4 linked regions of the Homo sapiens genome follow. The protein of the gene in region 2 interacts with the protein of the main gene of each other region in a pairwise test. Each region holds a gene or a part of one and is shown on either strand. Other genes may lie near its edges.

Evidence for each region.
Region 1: the proteins of ITGB5 (region 2) and GON4L interact in a two-hybrid assay, tested with the Homo sapiens proteins (one large-scale study listed by BioGRID and IntAct).
Region 3: the proteins of ITGB5 (region 2) and MYBPC2 interact in a two-hybrid assay, tested with the Homo sapiens proteins (one large-scale study listed by BioGRID and IntAct).
Region 4: the proteins of ITGB5 (region 2) and FDFT1 interact in a two-hybrid assay, tested with the Homo sapiens proteins (one large-scale study listed by BioGRID and IntAct).

Annotation. Positions count from the first base shown.
Region 1 is NC_000001.11:155,766,715-155,772,633, forward strand, and holds part of GON4L (GON-4-like protein), read right to left. Parts: intron 4,504-5,919; coding exon 4,353-4,503; intron 828-4,352; coding exon 711-827; intron 1-710. UniProt on the Homo sapiens protein: Has transcriptional repressor activity, probably as part of a complex with YY1, SIN3A and HDAC1. Required for B cell lymphopoiesis.
Region 2 is NC_000003.12:124,841,142-124,847,060, forward strand, and holds part of ITGB5 (integrin beta-5 isoform a precursor), read right to left. Parts: intron 411-5,919; coding exon 242-410; intron 1-241.
Region 3 is NC_000019.10:50,434,308-50,440,226, forward strand, and holds part of MYBPC2 (myosin-binding protein C, fast-type), read left to right. Parts: intron 1-853; coding exon 854-943; intron 944-1,468; coding exon 1,469-1,555; intron 1,556-1,704; coding exon 1,705-1,853; intron 1,854-2,309; coding exon 2,310-2,427; intron 2,428-3,165; coding exon 3,166-3,214; intron 3,215-3,351; coding exon 3,352-3,411; intron 3,412-5,919. UniProt on the Homo sapiens protein: Thick filament-associated protein located in the crossbridge region of vertebrate striated muscle a bands. In vitro it binds MHC, F-actin and native thin filaments, and modifies the activity of actin-activated myosin ATPase.
Region 4 is NC_000008.11:11,835,251-11,840,698, forward strand, and holds the end of FDFT1 (squalene synthase), read left to right. Parts: intron 1-3,137; coding exon 3,138-3,359; 3' UTR 3,360-4,048; downstream 4,049-5,448. UniProt on the Homo sapiens protein: Catalyzes the condensation of 2 farnesyl pyrophosphate (FPP) moieties to form squalene. Proceeds in two distinct steps.

The sequences.
Region 1 (5,919 bases), on a different chromosome or scaffold from region 2:
GGAAACAAGAACACTCTGATCCAGCATATGTCAGAATTTGGGAAAAAGAGGCTTGGCACAGTGGCTCACGCCTGTAATCCCAGCACTTTGGGAGGCTGAAGTGGGCAGATCACTTGAGGTCAGGAGTTCAGGATGAGCCTGACCAACACGGTGAAACCCCGTCTCTACTAAAAATACAAAAATTAGTTGGGTGTGGTGGCATGTGCCTGTAATCCCAGCTACTCAGGAGGCGGAGGCAGGAGAATCACTTGAACCTGGGAGGCAGAGGTTGCGAGAAGCCGAGATCGCACCTTAGCCTGGGTGGACAGAGCAAGACTCTGTCTCAAAAACAAAACAAAACAACAACAAAAAAAGAATTTGGGAAAAACAATAGGGCTTTCTAGGTTTTAGAGACCTTAGACAGTCTCAAGGCATCTTTCCAAGAAGGGTCTCTCTGCATATCAAATCTACAAAGACCACATTCTAATTATACACTTTAGAAACTTCTGTGAATTTCCTTTAGCAAATTATTATTTTACCTATTATTTTGAAAATGCTGTAGAATCACCCAGAGAAGGGCAGAAAAGTAAGGGAAGAAAGGTGAATCAGGAAGATTTCTAAAGTCCTAGTTCTACAACTAAAGCATTAGACGATTAAGGAAGCCCTTGATATTCTCTCAGAACTTTCAGTGACCTTCTGCCTCCTACAGACTTCGAGGAAGAGGGCTGTACCTTTAACCAGAATGGGAGCCGGTGTTCTTCTCTCTCTATAGGTGGCTTCCACTGATGTGGCTGGATCTCTTCACAGCATTTTCCTAGGACTGGCAGCTGTTTGGTCTTCTTATAAAACTTAACATGAAAAAAATGCGCATGAATTACATTCCTTCTGGAAACACTGTCCCCTGTCAGGCTGGTGAATGGGGTGGTGGTGGATCAAGAGAAACACACACACACACACACACACACACACAAGACCACATACACAAACATCCATGAACGCACATATATAAATAGCATATGCTGAATACTTGTACATTTCAAATTAAACTAATCTCTATTTAAATATTTCACAATTATTCAATATTTTCTAACTGATGATCTCCATTCTGGTTGCCAGGAAGGGGAGAGTTTAGGTCACAGAGAGAAAAGGAAGCAGATGCTCAGAGCAATCTTATGTAAGATTTGTTCTTGATCAACAGCTGCAAAGACAACATCGTAATCTATACCTTGGACACATGAAAGCTTCCTTTTAAGCAAATGGTGGTGTGAAAGGCATTAGAAGAGAAGGGGGGAAAAAAAGAGCCTGAGAAAGTTCAATTTTAAGAGTAAATGAAGGTTGGGCGTGGTGGTTCATGCCTATAATCCCAGCACTTTCGGAGGTGGGCAGATTACCTAAGGTCAGGAGTTCAAGACCAGACTGGCCAACATGGCAAAACCCCTATTCCTACAAAAATACAAAAATTAGCCAGGCATGGTGGCACGCACCTGTAATCCCAGCTACTCAGCGGGCTGAGGCAGGAGAATTGCTTGAACCTGGGAGGTGGAGGTTGAGGTGAGCTGAGATCAGAGACAGTGCCACTGCACTCCAGCCTGGGTGACACAGTGAGACTCCGTCTCAAAAAAAAAAAAAAAGAATAGGCCAGGCGCAGTGGCTCACCTTGTAATCCCAGCACTTTGGGAGGTTGAGGTGGGCAGATCACGAGGTCAGGAGATTGAGACCATCCTGGCTAACATGGTGAAACCCCGTCTCTACTAAAAAATACAAAAAATTAGCCAGGCGTGGTGGCTGGTGCCTGTAGTCCCAGCTACTCAGGAGGCTCAGGCAGGAGAATGGCATGAACCTGGGAGGCGGAGCTTGCAGTGAGCCGAGATCACACCACTGCACTCCAGCCTGGATGACACAGCAAGACTCCATCTCAAAAAAAAAAAAAAAAATTGAGACAGGTCTCACTTTTTTGCCCAGGCTGGTCTTGAACTCCTGGGCTCAAGTAATTCTCCCACCTTGGCCTCCCAAAGTGCTGGGATTATAGGCGTGAGCCACGGCCCCATTTAACTCTTGAATATTCATGTAACACCTGTTTCTCCCAACCTCTGATAGCATGTAAGATTTTTCCTTTGGCTCCAATGTTTTGAAAATTCATGATAATATGGCTTAGAATTTGTCTAGTTTCATCCGTGGTGCTAAGGCACTTGATAAACCGTATTCTGCTGCAGAAAAATCTTTTTCCTTCACGTTTGAGTTGTGTGTCATTTTCTGTGCACATCTTTGTACTTTTTGTTTGTTTCTCTGCTTCTTGATCTTTGAGACAGAGACTCCTCTGTCGCCCAGGCTGGAGTGCAGGGGAGTGATCCACGCTTACTGAACCTCTGTCTCCCTAGTTCAAGTGAGTTTTGTGCCTCAGCCTCCCGAGTGGCTGGGATTACAGGTGAGTGGCACCATACCTGGTCAATTTTTGTATTTTTAGTAGAGACGGGGTTTCACCATATTGCCCAGGCTGGTCTTGAACTCCTGGCCTCAGGTCATCTGCCTGCCTCAGCCTCCCAAAGACCTGGGATTACAGGCCTGAGCCACCGTGTACGGCCTCAATTTTTAAAAATTTAGAAAAAAATTAAAATAAAAAATGCTACTAGAATGTGTTTCACTAAAGGAAGGAAGTAAAACAAAAACACAGATGTAGAATTCAGGAAATAAGAAGATCCAACACAGTAAGAGGCAAAAAGAATTCCCAGGATGATGGGGAGGAAAAAGCCCAAAACATCAGTGCAGCAAGCCCAGAGAGCAACACGCTTAGAGTGGAATAGTGTCAGAGGGCTCAAGGAGCAATTCCTTCAAGATGAAAGTGACGGAATATCTAGAAGGCCAGACACGCTGAAAGGAGATTAAGAAAATTTAAGTAACCTTTACTGTTGACCTGGGAATAATTACATAATAAAATCAAGTCCAGCCCCATCCCCCTAAAAATGCGATTATTTACTCCAAGAAAAACAAAATGTTCAGCAGGAAAGGCAAGGTATCACAATAACATAGCTGTGAAGAGTATTTATACAGTCCTTAAAATCTTATAGTGTAAACCCTGAATACAACCTAACCAAAATTGTGACATAATTACTAGCGAGGAGATTGGAGAGCAGAAAATGTGCATGTTTGTGGTGGGAGTAAGGGAGTGAGGAGACAGGTAAATCCTCAGCTTCCTTGGCTTATGGTTAATGGTTAATAAATAAGGCCTAAATCCAATATACCAGGAAGTAGCAATTAGAGGCTGAGACAGGAGAATGCCTAAGGCCAAAAATTCGAGACCAGCCTGGGCAATATAGGGACACTCCATTTCTTAAAAAAAAAAAAAAAAAAAAAAAAAAAAAAAAAAATTAATAGGCAAGCATGGTGGCTCATGCATATAATCCCCAGCTCCTTGGGAGGCTGAGGTGGGAGGAATGCTTGAGCCCAGTAGCTGGAGCTTACAGTGAGCTATGACTGTACCACTGTACTCCAGCCTGGGTAGCAGAGTAAGACCCTTTCTCAAGAAAAAAACAAAAACAAAACAAAACAAAAGGCTGGGCATAGTGGCTCACGCCTGTAATCCCAACACTTTGGGAGGCCAAGCTGAGGCAGGCGGACTGACACATGTCAAAACTTCAAGACCAGTCTGGGCAACAAAGTGACACAGCATCTCCACACAAAATAAAATAATGAGCTAGCCTTGGTGGAACACGCCTGTAGTCCAGGATACTTGGAAGGCTAAAGTGGAAGGATCACTTGAACCCAGGAGTTTGAGGCTACAGTGACCTATGACTGAGCCAATGCACTCCAAACAGGATGATAGAGCAAGAACCCGTCTCTAAAAACACAACATAAATATCTAAATAAAAAAGAAGAAACCAGGTGCGGTGGCTCATGCCTGTAATCCCAGCACCTTGGGAGGCCAAGGCGGGTGGATCACTTGAGGTCAGAGGTTCAAGACCAGCCTGGCCAACATGGTGAAACCTCATCTCTACTGAAAATACAAAAATTAGCCAGGTGTGGTGGTGCATGCCTGTAATCCAAGCTACTTGGGACGCTGAGGCAGGAGACACCGAGGCAGGAGAATCGCTTGAACCTGGGAGGTAAAGACTGCAGTGAGCCAAGATTGCGCCACTCTACTCAAGCCTGAGTGACAGAGCAAGAGTCTGTCTAACAACAACAACAACAAAAAGCAAATAAGTGGAATACTGCCAGCGGAATATTGCCCAAAAGGCAATAGGGGAATTAATCTAGTGTAAAGTGGGAGAAATTAGCTTTAGATAAAAGAAGGTTCCTCTTTTCTTTGAGAATAACAAGATAAAAGAATGGGTACATATTGGTGAGGTGCCCGGATGGCGCATGCAGGAAACACTCACTTTAATGATGTTGTCAGGAGCTCTGTTCATGTTGAGGTTCTTGATTCTCACTGTCAGTTGGTGGGCAGTTTTGCAGGTTAGAAGGTACTTGCTGATTAGAGGATTAGGAAACTCAGTTCCTTCAAAATGCTTCAGTCCTAAAGCTAACAAACTGAGAAAGGAGAATAACACTAAATCTCACTTCACAGTCCTTCCTTCTAAAGGGTCTCCCCAGACTAACACATTTTACAATCTACTCTTTCATTTTTTTCTTGAGACAAGGTCTCACGCTGTCACCCAGGCTGGAGTGCAGTGGCACCATCGCAGCTCACTGCAACCTCTACTTCCTAGGCTGAAGCAATTCTCCAGTCTCAGCCTCCCAAAGTGCTGGGATTACAGGCATGAGCCATGGTGTGTGGCCCAATCTACCTTTTCATTTTTTTTCAGACAGGGTCTTGCTCTGTTGCCCGGGTTGGAGAGCGGGTGGCATGATTACAGCGCACTGCAGCCTTGAATGCCTGGGCTCAAGCGATTCCCGTACTTCATCCTCCCAAGTATCTGTGACCACAGACGTTCACCACCATGCCGGGCTAATTTTTTTCTTCCATTATTTGTAGAGACCAGTTCTCACTATGTTGCCTGGGCTAATCTTAAACTCCTGGCCTCAAGCGATCCTCCTGCCTCAGCCTCTCAAAGTGCTGGTATTACAGTTGTAAGCCCACCATGCCTGGTCAATCTACTTTTTGTAAATCTAATTCTTGTACAAGTTGGTGACTACTCAACAGAAAATTTCAGATACTTAGTGAGTACTGATTAAGTATTATGAATAAGAATAAGGCCAGGCGCAATGGCTCACGCCTGTAATCCCAGCATTTTGGGATGCCGAAGCAGGCAGATCACCTGAGTCAGGAGTTCGAGACCAGCCTGGCCAACATGGTGAAACCTCGTCTCTACTAAAAATACAAAAAATAGCCAGGTGTAGTGGTAGGTGCCTGTAATGCCAGCTACTTGGTCAGGAGAATCACTTGAAACCGGGGGCGAAGGTTGCAGTGAGCCGAGATCGCACCATTGCACTCCAGCCTGGGTGACAAAAGTGAAACTCTGTTTAAAAAAAAAAAATCAAATACTTCACAATTATGTGGGAACATAAGAAACTAGGCATAAATCATTAATAAACGTGAGATCATGATGAGCTGTATCATGACGAGCTGTATACTAACAATACAAAGGAAGTTCAAAGAGAATAGAAAGGAAGGAGAATAATTCTAATAAAACTAATACAAAATGAATAGGTACCCTGTCAGACAACTTAAACCGGCACCAATACTACCCTCTAACAACATATATGATCGTGGTTACATATACACATATGTGCTGATAACAGTGTGGCAATACACACAAAGGGCCATAAAAATGTTCATAATCTGGTGGGTGTGGTGGCTCATGCCTGTAATCCCAGCACTTTGGGAGGCCAAGGTGGGAGGATGCCTTGAGTCCAGGAGTTTGAGAGATGCCTGGATAACACAGAGAGACCCTCATCTCTACAAAAAAAAAAAAAAAAATTTAGCCATGTATGGTGGCACACGCC
Region 2 (5,919 bases):
TCCATTGCACACAACCACACCCTGACACAGAGACACAGACCAGCCCAATCCATTCCCGAGCTCCGGCTGATTTGACTGCTGTAGATTTCCCAGAAGTTCCACTGAGCTCACCCTCTGACTTCAGAGTGGTCAGGAGCCACATGCTGGGGCACTCAAAGACTCCTGCAGGAAGTACCAACACCCACTGACGCTCTCTACCTTGACCTCCCCATGCAGGGACAGGACCAGAAAGGAAAGTTACCTTGCAGACGGCTGCCTGGAGTACTGCATCAAAGCCCCCCTCAGGGGCATCTCGGTTCCGGGACACCCTCTGTTTCCGAACTTCCTCATTGAAGCTGTCCACTCTGTCTGTGAGAGGCAGCAGATGGCGGAACCCAAAGGAGGGGACGCAATTTGGAAACAACTTGTAACTAGAGAGGAAGAAGAGAAGAGTCACTTTTCCATCATTGTCTGTAAATCTTAACCAAGTGTTCTGAGCATTCACTGAGTGCCTTGAGAGGCACCAATAACTATTTACCCAGCACCTACCACATGCCCCAGGACAGGCACAGCAGAGAGAGCAAAGATAAATAACATAGTTCCTGTTCTCCAAACATCAGCCCTAAACTGCAGGCAAGGCAGTATATGCCAAGTTATAAATGAATGGTATGGACAAATTGTTCAAAGGAAACAGAGATAATAGTAGGCTACTGTGGTTGGAGGAAGACTTGACATAGGCATTGAAAGGTATGTGGGACCCGGGGTGTGGGCCAGCCTAGGCAGAGTGGAGAGGAAGTGTCCTCTGGGCTAAGGAACATGGATGATGCCCAGTGAGGGCAATGTAAGTGCAGTTACTCCATGCAACCAGCTTCTACATCAATGTTGCTGCCACGCAACAAAGGATCACAGGATCACATAATCTTGTCATGTCAATCCACTCAGTGACCAGGATGTGCAGGCACATGGACAAATGCTGAATGGAACAGGAATGAAAACATCTTATCTGCTTCTTCATTCGTTTCTAAATATTGTACCAACAAACTATCAATTCTGCTAAATGCAATAAAAATTATTTAGAAACTAAGCATCTTCAAATGGAAAGTTATGTCTGGAAATTACAAAAGAAGGAAGTATTACACATCAATAATAGGTTAATACCAAGCCTTTCTCCTGAAATATGGGGTGATCTCCTTTTCAGTCTCCTGTGGAGACTCCAAGTGGCCCTATTCCTGAAGGGAGTTACTTTCCATTACAGCTCTAAGAGTTTCAGCTTGATCTAGAACTAATAAAGTTGGAAGAGAGAGCTTATATTGTTTTACCAATGGGTTCACAAAGTAAAGGGAAGAGGGGAGAGTGTCCCAGCCAGAGAAGAGCATGTGCAAGAGTCCTGTGGCAGAAGGGAGCACAGAGCCCAAGGACAGAGGGAGGTCGGGGGGCTGTGGTGCAGAGTAACGGGTGAGGATGGGCGAGGAGGAGCCTGGGAGGCAGGCTGGGCCAGACTGTGCAGGGTCTCCAGCCATGTTAAGGAAGTCGCTCTTTCAGGATAAATGATGGAAAACGAGCACTAACAGGCCTGAGGGAAAGGCTTTATAATCTAATTCAAGCTGCATACATGGGAAAGAAAACAGCCTTAGCAACAGCTAGGAGGACCCTGCCTTAAATGCTGTCAAAAAGCAGACTCACCAGGGCAGGTCTGGGCAGGCTCCCTTCTGTAAAGGGGCAATCTTTGGTTCTCTAAGGGGCTATTCCATTCCCTCTCAGGGCTACAGTCCCTTCTCCATCCACACAGTCACAACAGCACAGCACAGAGTCCCCAGCAACAGGCCCACCCTGCACAGAATCAATCAGCCCCACTCCTGTGATAGTCGCGCTCTCCCTCTCGGGGCCGGCGGCAGCGATGGGATCTCCCTGCCTGGCTTTCCTTTGTGTTTCTCCCTTCTCCTTTCCCGAAGTCTTCATGAACACCTTGTACTTGGACAGGTGGAACTCTCTTTTAACCTCAGCCTCGGGCCACCCAAACTTTCCATTACCTCCTCATTTTGTCATGAAAAGAACAATCATGGAAATTACATTCCCAGCTGGAAGAAGGAACTGAGGTCCCATCTGTAGCTATTTGGCAAGTGGATCATAGGCCCAGAAGGAAGTAAGTCTATCCAAACTCTCCCCCTCTCTCTTCCTCCAAGATCCTGCCCTGGCCTATGTGGCTCTGGCCCATGATTTAGGACTTCAGGTGTGTGGTTTTTTTACACTTGGTCCGGTTGGTTGCGGACAGGGAGAAAAGAAACTGAATAATGATTGCTGTTTAACCAGGAAAGCTGTGACAAACTCAGCTACAGCTCAGCATGTTTTACCTCCTCCCTTTCACTCCCGCAAACAGCAATGAGCAGATACATTTTTACTGCAAAGAATGACTGTTAAGTAGTTAGGAATTAGAAGATGTGTTTGCCAGAGAGAAGCCTTCATTGTAGAGAATTTACTATAACCAAGTCAGAGTCACTTAGGAAAAGAGCTTTGTCACACAGACGCTAGGAGAGTCTCCACTGACACTGGAATAGGATGTCACCTGTGATGAGTTATCTGACTTAACCCCAGAGCAGCTGTCTGAGTGGCCTGAAGATCCGGACGTTCTGGGGTCATGCCAGGAGACTATCCTACCCCTCTCATGTGTCTGTGCTGTGAGACCCCAAATAAGCGCCATGCATACAGAGTTACTAAATTAAGGATTATTAACAAGGGAGATAAAAAATAAAATATATATGGTTAAAGAGCCAAGGGAGTGTCTGTATGTATAAAAAGTGAATCCAATTTGAAGACACCAGACCTAGGCAAATCCAGAAAACAATCTAATGCCTCAGGAGAATATCATGGATCAAGCTGACATGGAAAGGCTCTCCATGTCATGGAACAGGAATGAAAACATCTTATCTGCTTCTTCTAACTCTAAACATATACAACTGCTGGATAAAATGTAATTTAAAATTTTTTAATATATAGCCTAGGCTGGAAGCTTAGAAAGTAAATCCCAGAAACGAAGAGGAAACCATTCAATAAATGAATGGACCTTTCAGAAGTATTTGGTTTTGGCAAAAAAAAAAAAAAAAAAAAAAAAAAAGAAAACACCAAAAAACAAATGAATGGACTTAAAAGAATAGGTGGGGGCTGGGTGCAGTGGCTCACGCCTGTAATCTCAGCACTTTAGGAGGCTGAGGCAGGCAGATCACCTGAGGTCAGGAGTTCAAGACCAGCCTGGCCAACGTGGTGAAACGCCATCTCTACTAAAAATACAAAAATTAGCTGGGCATGGTGGTGGGCACCTGTAATCCCAGCTACTCAGGAGGCTGAGTCAGGATAATCACTTGAACCCAGGAGGTGGAGGTTGCAGTGAGCTGAGATCCCGCCACTGCACTCCAGCCTGAGTAACAGAGCAAGACTCGGTCTCAAAAAAAAAAGGTAGGAAATGGGCAGGCACTCATGCCAAGGACCCCCGCAATGGGTCAGGCCTTGACTGAGGCCCTACAGGCTTGGAGCAGGGTCTACCAGGAATAGATGCTGAGCCTCAGTCCTGCAGAGGGCTGAACACTGGAATAGGGCTGTCTGCATAAAGCCGAACAGCACAATGAGCTGCTGTGCTACTAAAACCAGAAACAGAAAAACTCCAGCTACTGGTCTAGGAAAGCAGCACGGAAGCTGACCATCTACCATGAATGAGATGAATTACCCATAAAAACTGTAACTCCAGGCCTGAGCAATTGGAATACACTGCTTTTATGGTGAAGACATCTCCATTTGAAAAATTAACAGAAAAACTAGTCCCACGGTGAACCTGGAGATTCTCGACAACGGCAAACATAAAACTGCTCTGCAGGGATGCCCCCACAACCTCCAAGGAAGAGCTAATGAAAAGCTTATAAATTGCATGAAAAACAATTCATGAAGGCATGTCAGCAGGTCCAATACACTGACTGGCTGTGGATCCACCTGAAGGATCCACAATTCAAGAAACAGAAACAGAATAATTTAAAATACTTTAGGCTGGGCGTGGTGGCCCACCCCTGTAATCTCAGCACTTTGGGAAGCTGAGGTGGGTGGATCACCTGAGGTCAGGAGCTCAAGACCAGCCTGGCCAACATGGTGAAACCCCATCTCTACTAAAAAATACAAAAATTAGCTGGGTGTGGTGGCACGTGCCTGTAATACCAGCTACTCAGGAGGCTGAGGCAGGAGAATCACTTGAACCCAGGAGACACAGGATGCCGTGCTGCCTGGACGTGGGGAGACAAAGCTCGGCCTGCTCACCAAGCCACAGTGTGCCCCCACGCTGCGTGTGCCTCCCCAGCTCAGAGAAGAGAGCTTCACATAACTCAGGCCCGAGGTTTCCTTCCACATTCTCATTCTTCACTGGACTTCCTGCCTTACAAGTAGCTTTTCAGTGTGCCTTGTACTCACTGTCAGGAGTTTTACTGTCTGCAACAGGCTCTGCCTTAGAGGACTTAGAGAGTGAGCTCTGAATAAGTAATGATGTGTCATAACTTTGAATATTTAAATGCTGAGCGCCTAGAGCCAGCCCTTGATTCTCTGCCAGCTTCCAATCTAGTGTCTCGGTCAGTGGAAGGGCCTTGGAAGAATGAAAGTGGGGACACACCCTATCTGTCTGGAGACAGGGCCCAATTAGGACAGAGGTGAAAAGAAGCAAATAAAATCACTATTTCAGATGAATTGAAAAAAGGCTTAAGGCTTGCAGTTAAGATGCTGTTGCTCCTGGTAAGCAGCAAAATTTCAACAAAAACATTTGACACCCAGACTTAGCTGAAAAGGGCCTTGGAGACAGAATCAAAGTAGTAATAGTCCCTGTGGCCACCTGTCGCCAGGAGGAAGCTAAACCCAGCAAATGATGATGCCTAGTGCCTCTTCGTGGTTAAAGAATTTAGAGTTCATTTGTATTTAAAACTTTTTCTTGTCTGTTTTTCCACCAGTGTCAGTTCCCAATACCTGAAAAGATCTAAGTCAGCTTCTGGGAGAGTATACAGAAGGATCTGGAGGGATTCAGAAGAGCCTATGCCACCAGCACACTAACTTGCTCCTATCACCCAGCCCAACTTGGAGCTAGGAGCTCTGAAGGCTACCAAAGAGGACTTGTGGAGAGGGGAGGGCTCAGGGATTTAAGAACAGCTCTCTCCCCTTGGTGGCAGCTGGAAGACCAAGAATTGAGAATGGCATCACAAGATGGAAGGAGCTGGATCCCTGAGTTACTGCATGGAGAGCTGCCAAGGAAAGCAGCTCAGCCCTCATCAGATGTTGCACAAGCAAAAAAAAAAAAAACCAACAAAAAAAAAACGTTCATTGTGTTGAGCCACTGAGATTTGGAGACTCTACGTTACTGCAGCATAACCTACCATGATCCTCAGGTAAGCCCCTAGGACATGGGGGTAGGGTGGTTTAGGGACAGGTATTATTACTCAGCCTAAGGTAAAGTGTCTGTGTTGTAGTGTGATTTGAATGGGGAAGAAGACATTATATTAAACGCAAACGCAGGCCGGATGCAGTGGCTCATGCCTGTAATCCCAGCACTTTGGGAGGCTGAGGTGGATGGGTCGCTTGACGTCAGGAGTTCAAGACCAGCCTGGCCAACATGGTGAAACCCCATCTCTACTAAAAATACAAAAATCAGCCAGGTGTGGTGGCAGGCACCTATAATCTCAGCTACTCAGGAGACTGGGGCAGGAGAATCGGCTTGAACCCGGGAGGCGGAGGTTGCAGGGAGCCGAGATTGCACCACTGCACTCCAGCCTGGGCAACAGAGCAAGACTCCGTCTCAAAAAAAAATGCAAATGCAGACTCTAAAAGTAGTTTGTCTGTATTCATATTCCAGCTCTACCCCTTGCTGTTTGTATAATATTGGGTAAGTTATTCTCTCTAGGCCTCAGTTTCTGCATCTCTAAA
Region 3 (5,919 bases), on a different chromosome or scaffold from region 2:
AATCTTGCCACTGCACTCCAGCCTGGGAGACGGAGCGAGACCCTGCTGGGAAAAAACAGAAACAAAAACAAAAAATAGATTCCAAGGGACCTTCTCTGTAGGATATGGGGTGATTGTGGGTATAAAGATTAGTGGTTCCCATCTGCATGGAGTCACAGGGGAAGTCTCTGTATTAAGGATGGGGGAGCCTCATTTCTGTGGGCACTGAGGCTTCCCCGTGTAGGAATTAGCGGGGCTTCTTCATGCAGGGAATGGGGTCCTTTTTGCGGGGTTTGGGGACCTTCTTTGAATGGGGAACACTTTCTGTGGAGATGAGGCTTTCTCTCTATGAGGAACTCACCGCAGGAATCATGCACCGCTGGGCGGACCCCCTCCTGGGATGTCTGGTCCGCTGGCATCAGGCCAAGCAGGCTGTGGGGTGGGTCCAGCCCCTACTGTAGCTGCAGACCCAGCCGGCAAGGAACAGCAGGCAGGGCAGGGGAAGGATGCTGCGGTCAGCACCAGGTGTCCAGTTTCCAGCCCAGAGGGAGAGCTAATTATACCCTCGGACCCAAAAGGTCAGGGCGTGGTGGCCTGGGCGGATGGGGCAGGGCCTGCTGGGGGTAAGGGAAACCCGATCCCACAGACTCTCAGATCTGAGATAAATTTATACCTAGGGTGGGGGCCTGGACTCTTGGGTCTGAGGGAGGAGGGGCTGGGGGCCTGGACTCCTGGGTCTGAGGGAGGAGGGGCTGGGGGCCTGGACTCCTGGGTCTGAGGGAGGAGGGGCTGGGGGGTCTGGACTCCTGCGTCTGAGGGAGGGGCATGGGTGTGCAGACCGCATGCTCAACTATGACTGTCCCCTACCTTACAGCGGCCAAAAAGGCCCCCAAAGGCAAAGATGCCCCCAAAGGAGCCCCCAAGGAGGCTCCCCCTAAGGAGGCTCCTGCAGAGGCCCCCAAAGGTGAGGAGGTGCTCCCTCGGGCTCAACCGACCTGGCTTCTCATCTCCATCCTCCTCGCTACGCCTCTCCAGGCCTTTCCCCAGCCTCTATCCTTGAATCTGTCCCCGCACAGCCCCAGGGCTGACCCACGCCTCCCGTGCTCCCAGCCCTCCCGGGGCTCCCTGGCACCCGCAGGCAGAGCCCAGCCCCTCGGCTGGCATCGGCTCCGGTCAGCTGGCTGATTGATCACCAGGTCCGGCCCCGGTCTCTCTAAACCTCTCCCGCCCCAAAGGCACATTCAGTGCCCTCCAGTCCACAGATGAGGAAACCGAGGCCCAAAGGGGTGAGGGAGCCTGGCCAAGGTCACACAGCCACGAGGGTGACAGGTGGCCTTTCCCAGGTCAGGAAAAGCCATTTAACCCCCATGATGTTTGGTTTCTGAGTAGAGGGGCCCTCACTGTCTCTAAGTCCTTTCCCCAAAGCGGCCCACTGTCCCCTCCCCAGCCTATCTCAGACCTCCTCATCCTAATCCTGTCCCCTGAACAGAAGCCCCACCCGAGGACCAGTCCCCGACTGCAGAGGAGCCCACCGGCGTTTTCCTGAAGAAGCCGGACTCCGTCTCAGTGGAGACTGGTGAGGGGAACCCGGGGGAGGAGGGGCTGCGGCCCGGACTCCTGGGTCTGAGGGAGGAGGGGCCAGGGTCTCGTTCTGTCTCCCTCTGGAGAGCCTTATGTTCCTTCCTGGGCCTCCTCCCACTCTACCCTGTCACTCACCCCATGTAGGGAAGGACGCAGTGGTCGTGGCCAAGGTGAACGGGAAGGAGCTCCCAGACAAACCGACCATCAAGTGGTTCAAGGGGAAGTGGCTGGAGCTGGGCAGCAAGAGTGGCGCCCGCTTCTCCTTCAAGGAGTCCCACAACTCCGCCAGCAATGTGAGGACCCCGTGGGCCAGAGGGCTGGTGGAGGGGAGTGGAGCTTGTGCAGGACATGCTCCTCAGAAGCCCTGTTGCCTGAGGCATCAATGTGGGCCTGGAGCCGGGATGGAGAGTGGGCCCTCTGAGGATGGAGGTTGTGCGGGGCTGCTGGGGAGAGGTTGTGTGAAGCAGAGGGAGGATGCCTGGGGTTGGGTGGGGATGCATTAGGGCTTGGTCATGTACATTCCTGGCAAGGCCTGAGGGGGCCAGGGACCTGGGCCCCAGAAGTCCTGATGGGTCAGATATGAGGAGACAGAGCTGGCCACCAGGTGCTGAGACCCCTCTCGGTCTCCATTGGCCCCCCTGTGGGGTGGGGGTGAGGACGTGGAGATAGAGCTATGAGTGGACTCTGAGGAATATGGGGTGGCTCTAGAGGGTGGTCCCGTGCACCCACACCCCCGGCCCTGGACCCAGGTGTACACCGTGGAGCTGCACATTGGGAAGGTGGTACTGGGGGACCGTGGGTATTACCGCCTCGAGGTCAAAGCCAAGGACACCTGTGACAGCTGTGGCTTCAACATCGATGTGGAGGGTATGCTGGTGGGGGATGCGGGAGCAAAGGGTTCTATGTCTGGGTGGGGTGGACAGATGTACCAGCCAGGTGTTGGGAGAGTGCACAGGCATGGGCATGAGGTGGGCACAGGTTTTTGGAGGAGGGAGTGCAGATTCTGGGGTCAGAGTATTCAAACTCAAGGAGACATAGCATGGGAGGAGGTCTGGATTTCGGGGGTGAAAGTGTACAGGGTCTTGGGATGCACATGCAAAGGCTTAGGAGGTGAGTTATGCACATTCCACGTTTAAGAAAGTAGGCAAAACGGCTTGGGAAGTGAGGGTGTCCAGGTTTAGAGAAGAAGGATGTAGGGGTTTAGAGTGAGGGTGTACAGGATTAACAGGAGGTTACACGGATTTGAGGGCACATATATGGGCCCCTGAGGGTGTATGGGCTCTGGGGGTCTGCAGCCCAGAATGTGTGAGGGCTTAAATGTGGGGTGCACAGGAAATGAGATTGTCCAGGCCTGGGGAGAAAGACATGGTGGCCCAGGTGTGGGGGGTATAGGCTGCTGAGAGAGGGTGGAGCTTGGCAGCTGGGGAAATGAGTATGAGCTGGTCTAGAACTAGAGGATGCCCAGGCCTGAGCAAGGTTGTGCTGGTCCAAGAGATGGAGAAAAGGGGGCCTGGAAGAGGTTGTGCAGGCCTGGAGAGGGGCTCTCAGTCTAAGATCAGCCCTGGCCTCTAACTCACCTTCCCTTCTCTCATCACCTCTCCCCAGCACCCCGTCAGGATGCCTCTGGGCAGAGTCTAGAAAGCTTCAAGCGTACGTAAGTGACCCCAGGCCCTTACCAGGGTCCCAAGGACCATGGGAGGCTCTCCCTTGGAAGGGGAAAAAGGGAGGATTGGGGAAGGCAAGGGGTGAATCTGAAGGGTCAAGACTCACATGCCCTCTCAATGGCCACAGGAGTGAAAAGAAGTCGGATACTGCAGGTGAGCTGGATTTCAGTGGCCTGTTGAAGAAGAGGTGAGCCCCGGACTTGGCACAGAGAGGGGAGATGGGACTCAAGGGGAGGAGGTGGTGGGTGAAGCTCCATGGCCCACTGATTCCTCCTGGACCCACTGCTTATCCCTCTACCACCTCCATCTGTTCACTCCCTGCCCACCCAGCATCTAACACACCAACCCATCAGGCTGCCTGTTCATCCACCCACCTACCCATTTACCCAGACCCCTACCCACAACCCCACCCAGCCAAACATCTGCCATGAGTTCACCCACCTTCTCACCCCTTAACCCACCATTCTCACACCCACTCTGCTGTTCACTCAGGCTCTAGTTCACCTATGCCTCCACCTACTCACCCTCCCATCCATCCATCCCTCCATCCCTCCACTTTCCACCCACTGATCCATTCACTCACCCATCCATCCAACCAGTGGCCTATTTATGTATCTACTAATACATCTATCCACCTACCTGCCCAGTTGCCAATCTATCTACCCACATATCCATCCGTTAACCACCATTTTCCCACCTGTTTACCTGCCCATCTGCCATTACAGTCAGCCTAGCTACATGGGTAGGTGGATGGATAACGGGTGAATGGGATGTTGGATTTGGTTGGGAGATGCAGGTGCAGATAGACAGGTGGGAAGGTGGGTGGATGGTACGGATGAATGCATGGTGGAGAGGTGGGAGGATGGGTGCCTCAGTAGGTGGGGAAGCGGATGGATGGATGGGGTGGGTGGACGATGAATGGATGGGTTCATGAATAGGTGGCTGAGTTCACCAGTGAAGAGGTGGGCAGTTGACACGCCCATCCACACAGATAGCCCTCTGTTAGATTGAACTATGTAAAATTGATGTTCTGCAGGTAAAAAATGATTGAAGTCTGGGTGCAGTGGTTCACGCCTATAATCCCAGCACTTTTGGAGACCAGTGTGGGAAGATCACATGAGCCCAGGAGTGTAAGACCAGCCTGGGCCACATAGGGAGACCCTGACTCTACAAAAAAAAGAAAAATTAGCAGGGCATGGTGGCATGTGTCTGTGGTCCTAACTACTTAGGAGGCTGAGGGAGGAGGATCGTTTGAGCCCAGGAGATCAAGGCTGCAGTGAGCCATGATCGCGCCACTGCACTCCAGTCTGGGCAACAGAGTGAGACTGTTTCAAAAACAACAACCACAAAAAATTAAATATCGGCAATCTCATATGCATTATCTGCTGGCCCACTTATCCATCTTCACTTGCCCATCAATCCCCATAACTATATCCCTGACAATTCCATTTACTGATCAATTCTGTCTGCAGCCAGCCAGCCACTTCCTTGGCCACTTCTCATCAACATATTCACCCAACTGCGCAGTCATTTCTCACCAACCCATCAATCCATCCACTCACCCACCTGTCTTCCCCCAACCCATCAATCCATCCACCCACCCACCTGTCTTCCCCCAACCCATCAATCCATCCACCCACCCACCTGTCTTCCCCCAACCCATCAATCCATCCACCCACCCACCTGTCTTCCCCCAACCCATCAATCCATCCACTCACCCGTCTTCCCCCAACCCATCAATCCATCCACCCACCCACCTGTCTTCCCCCAACTCATCTGCCTCTCTTCCCACCCACCCTTCCACTGACCCACCCACCTACTTATCAGCCCACTTACTCACCATTCTGTACATCAATTCAAATATTCATGTCCCCACATTCACCTCCACATCTATCCTCTCTTTGTTCCTTTCCCTTCCTTCCTTCCCTCCCAAGCTCCATCCATGCATTCACTCACTCTCTCACCCATCAACCATCTTCTGAGGCCTCCCGTCTACTAGGTCCTGGGCTGAGATCCATGCATTCACTCACTCTCTCACCCATCAACCATCTTCTGAGGCCTCCCGTCTACTAGGTCCTGGGCTGAGATCCATGCATTCACTCACTCTCTCACCCATCAACCATCTTCTGAGGCCTCCCGTCTACTAGGTCCTGGGCTGAGATCCAGGGAGAGAGAACAGTCTGACTGGGTCCCTGATGTGAGATCACTCATTGCCTTGGGAAATGGGTCTTGTCCAACAGACATAGATACAGACTGAGACTATTTGGTGTGATTTTAGAGAGGGTCCCACCGGGGCCTGTGAGAGCCCAGAGCACGAGCAACTCACTGTCTTGTAGGACACGGAATGCCTCAGGGAGAAGGGAACTTTGGTGCTAGGTCTTGTAGGATGAAGAGGAGTCTGGGAGGAAGAGAAGGTAGGGAGAGGTCATGAAGGTAGGGAAACATTTTGTGCAAAGGCTGGGAAGCAGGAGAGAGCCTGAAGTGTTCAGCAAAAGTCAAGCAGCTTGGTTCAGGTGACTTTGGGGGGAGTGACGGAAGTAGCTGGGGTGTGATGGCCAGGCGGAGGGCTGGGGCTTCCTCCTGAGGGCAGTGGGGAGCCACAGAAGAGTTCTGAACATGAAAGGGAGAACCACTGATGTGGGTGTCAGAAATACCCCACAGGATAAAAGAGGACAAATAGGGTGCAATGTATGCT
Region 4 (5,448 bases), on a different chromosome or scaffold from region 2:
TTGAGTTTGCAGAAACCTACTGTGTGCCTTCAGGTAAATGGAGAGTGGGGTTTGGTCTAGCAACGAAGCATCTAGAAGGTCCCTTTGGCCTTACCGGCTCTGTTTTAGGTAAGTCCACGTCTGAGTACCAGTGACTGCAGCTCTTCCAGTTGTGCTGTCATGCTTATATGTTAGAAATGATCATCAAAGGACTCAAAAGTTTTGCCACTAATTGTATTACCGGGGACTGTCACAACCAAGATTTCTCTTAATTTATTCACCTTACTTATCTCCTGGAAGGGCATATTGAAGTGCTCTTGGAGTTCTCTAAAAGGGTTTTTGTTGGTTGTGTATATTCACTTGGGTGCCAGCGATTGATTCCAAATAAGTAAATCTTTTTTCCCAAAAGGATGTAAGATGGCTTATGGTTATAAGTACAACAGGCTAACAAAGTACAAGTAGATGAGAAAGTAAAATGAAGAAATAAAGTCATAGGAGCCACAGAATTAACCCAGGAATGAATAAGTGTGTAGTTTGGTGCTGATGTTATCATCCTTTATTTGTACATTGCTTGTACAGTTGCTCTGAGAAGGTAAGTCTTAAATTTTCAAAAGTGAAATGTCACCGAGCATGGTGGCTGATGCCTCTAATCTCAGCACTTTGGGAGGCTGAGGCAGGCGGATCACTTGAGGTCAGGAGTGCGAAACCAGCCTGACTTATGTGATGAAACCCTGTCTCTACTAAAAAAAAAAAAAAAAAAAAAAAATACAAAAGTTAGTTGGGCATGGTGGCAGGTGCCTGTAATCCCACCTACTTGGGAGGCTGAGGCAGGAGAATCGCATGAACCTGGGAAGTGGAGGCTGCAGTGAGCCAAGATTGCACCACTGCACTCTAGCCTGGGTGACAGAGCGAGACACCATCTTAAAAAAAAAAAAAAATCTACAATATACCAAAACCATTACTTACCTGAGAAACTATTCTCAGGGTCATTGTAGTGAATGCCTATTTTATGGCTTTTGATGGCATCAGGGCACTCAGGTCATTTACAAGAGTAGTGTGTGAGACCCTGTGTGTCACTGCCACTCATCTTGGCCTTCGGCCACTGCTGTAGCAACCAGTTTCCAAGTAGGGCTGGACCTTGCCTTCTGCTCCAGAGACCTCTCGCTTCCTGCCCTTGGGCTTCTGACGAGCTGCAGGAACTGCCTGGCACGTGGGTCCCCACAACCCAGAGGAGGTGAGGGCCACCTCTCTGCTCCTCAGGGCCACCTTTCATAAGGCTCCTTGAAGGTCCCTCAAGATCAAGCCAACTCAACACATCCTTGATAGGCCTTCCTGCCTTCTGTTTCACTTCTCCACTCGTTTCCAAATAAATGGCTGCATGCAAGCTTTTGCCTCAGGTTCTGCTTTTAGGAGGAAGGCTAAGACAAGCAGTAAAGCAACATGGGCAGGCAGAAGGATGACTTCTAATAGAATTATCTCATCACTATATATTTTACTTTATGGATGCTTGTATTGAAAAGTCTTGGCTGGGTGGAGTGGCTCACGCCTGTAATCCCAGCCCTTTGGGAGGCCGAGGTGGGTGGATCACTTGAGGTCTGGAGTTTGAGACCAGCCTGACCAACACTGGTAAAACCTTGTCTCTATTAAAAATGCAAAAATTAGCCAGGGATGCACGCTTGCTGTGTGCCAGCACAGGGCTAGGCTGGAGATAAAAAGGTGAGTAAGTAGGTGCGGTGTAGTCAGGGTGAAAACTACAGATGGTCCATTTCCACGTAAGTGGAAAGGTAAAGGTATGTACAATAGGGTGGCTCCTGGCTGAACCTGGAGCTGCAGACAGGTTTTCTAGAAGGCATAATCCTGAAGTTGAGACTTGGGGGCCTAGGTAGGAGCCAGTTGAAGGGACGTGGGAGGCGCATTCCAGAGAGAAGGAGTGGTATGAGACTGGAACAGAGGTGTGCAGCAGCATCGCATGGGCGAAACAACAGTAGACAGTTGTTCTTTTGTTTTTGTTTGTTTTTTGAGACAGGGTCTTGTTCTGTCATCCAGGCTGGAGTGCAGTGGCATGATCTCGGATCACTGCAACCTCCACCTCCCAGGCTCAAGTGATCTTCCCACCCCAGTCCCCAAGTAGCTGGGGGACCACAGGTGCATGCCACGATGCCCGGCTAATTTTTGTACATTTTGTAGAAACAGGGTTTTACTGTGTTGTCCAGGCTGGTCTTAAACGCCTGAGCTTAAGCAGTCTACGTGCCTCAGCCTCCTGAAGTGCTGGGATTCCAAACATGAGCCACTGTGCCTGGCCCGGCAACTGTTACTAGACTGTAGAGAGGGAGGTGGGCAAGGGCTGGTGACACTAGACAGGTGCAGTAGGTCTGGACCATGGGTGGCCTTGCGCTACACATTACAGAGCTCAGGCTTTTTTTCTCCAGGTGAGAGGGCTGGTGCCACTGAGGCATCAAGCAGAGGTTTGAGATCTCCTTGGTGACAGTGTAGAGCAGACAGGTAGATTTGGGAATTTAAGCTTAGACTCACGTTGGAGACTGAGATAGCTCATCTGAGAGGCACTCAGGGCCTAATCTCAGGCAGTAATTTTAGGGATGTAGGGGAAGAGATGGATTCTGCACATACTTGGGAGGCTTGTGGAGGAGTGGGGAGGGAGGCACAGGGAGGACTCCAGGGTGGTTCATACGGCTCCCTGCTTCTGTTCCTGTCCCCCTTTGTCAAGCTGTGGTCTGTACTGCGTGTTCCATCTTGTTTCTAAGCTGCTTTTGCCCAGTCTTTCCAGCATTTCCCTTTCGTCATGTTAGTCTGTGCCTGTCTACGTGAACTATGGTGACGTTTATTGGGCCTGGCACTGTGAGGTGCTGGGGATGTGAAGATCATTGTGGCTCAGCCGCTGCTCTCGAGGGCCTCTGGGTGCAGTATGCACACCTGTGCCTCCTGTTTGCTCAGGAAGACAGGCTTTGAGATGAGCTGGGGCTGACATCCCCACCTTATCATTGGGATGGCTTTGGGTAAGTTATGTTCATGTTCTCTGAGCCTCCCTTTCCTCATTGGTAAAATGGGTATAAAATACCTGCCAGTGGAGGGTTGTTGTAAGTAGCCATGGAAAATGTAAAGCACATAGCACTTATCATTTTTTCCTGTGTCTTTAACAGATTTATCATAGAATCCCCGACTCAGACCCATCTTCTAGCAAAACAAGGCAGATCATCTCCACCATCCGGACGCAGAATCTTCCCAACTGTCAGCTGATTTCCCGAAGCCACTACTCCCCCATCTACCTGTCGTTTGTCATGCTTTTGGCTGCCCTGAGCTGGCAGTACCTGACCACTCTCTCCCAGGTAACAGAAGACTATGTTCAGACTGGAGAACACTGATCCCAAATTTGTCCATAGCTGAAGTCCACCATAAAGTGGATTTACTTTTTTTCTTTAAGGATGGATGTTGTGTTCTCTTTATTTTTTTCCTACTACTTTAATCCCTAAAAGAACGCTGTGTGGCTGGGACCTTTAGGAAAGTGAAATGCAGGTGAGAAGAACCTAAACATGAAAGGAAAGGGTGCCTCATCCCAGCAACCTGTCCTTGTGGGTGATGATCACTGTGCTGCTTGTGGCTCATGGCAGAGCATTCAGTGCCACGGTTTAGGTGAAGTCGCTGCATATGTGACTGTCATGAGATCCTACTTAGTATGATCCTGGCTAGAATGATAATTAAAAGTATTTAATTTGAAGCACCATTTGAATGTTCGTAATAGTAGAAAATGATGTGAATTTTCTTTCTGTTCGGCTCCTATTTTTCTCATCATTTTGTTTTCTTTAATTGGGTTGAATGGAGTAGATAGAAATATTTATGGTTTAGGTAACAGTTAGATGTTTCCTAAGAATGCAAACTGCCTTTTCCACACAAAGGCTGGGAATAAAATTCTGGGTATTCTCGTATTCTCATTTAAAGGAGTTTAGCTTTCAGAGAGAAACAGCAGGATTGCTTTTGACCTTTTAGAAGATTGGTCTCCAGTAAAGGTGGACATTTTTGAGATTTTTATAATAAAGAATTTAATTGCTCTGCATTTGTCAAGTACAGTTCGCTTGAAAGCCTGCCTGACTGTGGAAAAGATGGAGCTCAAGAATGGAGTTGATGGCCCAGCGTGGTGGCTCATGCCTGTAATCCCAGCACTTTGGGAGGCTGAGGCGGTCGGATCACGACATTAGGGGATCGAGACCATCCTGGCTAACACGGTGAAACCCCGTCTCTACTAAAAAAAAAAAAAATTAGCCAGGCGTGGTGGCGGGTGCCTGTAGTTCCAGCTACTCGGGAGGCTGAGGCAGGAGAATGGCTTAAACCCGGGAGGCGGAGCTTGCAGTGAGCTCAGATCGCGCCACTGCACTCCAGTCTGGGCAACAGAGCGAGACTCCATCTCAAAAAAAGGAAAAAATTGTAAAAAAAAAAAAAAAAAAAAAAAAAAAAAAAAAAAAAAAATTTCCCCCAGCAGTTTTTGTTTTCTAAAGTTATCAGTTTATATATTCAGGTCTTAAGAAAGGCAAAAGCTGTCTTCAGGTGATTGGCTTGGGGGCAGAACAGTACTTCTGCTCGGGGTTTCACCTTCCTCTCTACTCCAGTGCAGCAGAGCTTGTGATGTGCTCTCACTGAGGTGCTCAGTGCAGCAAGGAGGCCTGTGGACCCTCGAGTTGAGAATTGGTGTACTAGGGCATTCGGTACTTTCTAGAAGCCATTAATGCTACAGGTACTCATAAAGTCTACTCTTCTGCAGCCCATCGTGGATGGTGGCTTAATCATTGAATTTGAGTTGTTTCGAGCTGCAGCGTTGGATTTGCATTGTTGTAAGCACACTTTCTTGCTGTGACCACTGACACCAAAATTAGTTTGGGCCCAGGGAGACTTCAGTTAATTGGTTCATTTGAGGCTTAGCCCTGGACTCATTTGTCACCAGCCAAGATAACTTGCCACATGGAATACAGCCAGACCAGGGGTCCCCGACCCCCAGGCCTAGGACCGGCACTAAACCTTCTGTTACGTGGCCTGTTAGGAACCGGGCATCACAGCAGGAGGTGAGCGGCGGGTGAGTGAACATTATCACGTGAGCTCCACTCGGCGTTAGATTCTCATAGGTGCGATTGCGCGTGTGAGGGATCTGGGTTGCATGCTCCTTGTGAGAATCTAGTCCCTGATGATCTGAGGTGGCAGTTTCATCCCAAAACCATTTTCCTCCCTCTGTCCTTGGGAAAATTGTCTTTATGAAACCGGTCCCTGGTGCCAAAAAGCTTGGGGACCACTGAGCTAGACTCGACAGTATTTTCCAAGGAATTAAAGCCTCAAAACTTGGTTTGAGATTTCAGGGTAGGTTGTTAAAAATCTGTGTGTTGAAATCTAAGATTTAATTCTGCCAAAGTTCACGTTAAGACAGAACAACCTGCTGGAAAGAGATTTGGTCTGAGTGGGGCCTGTGGA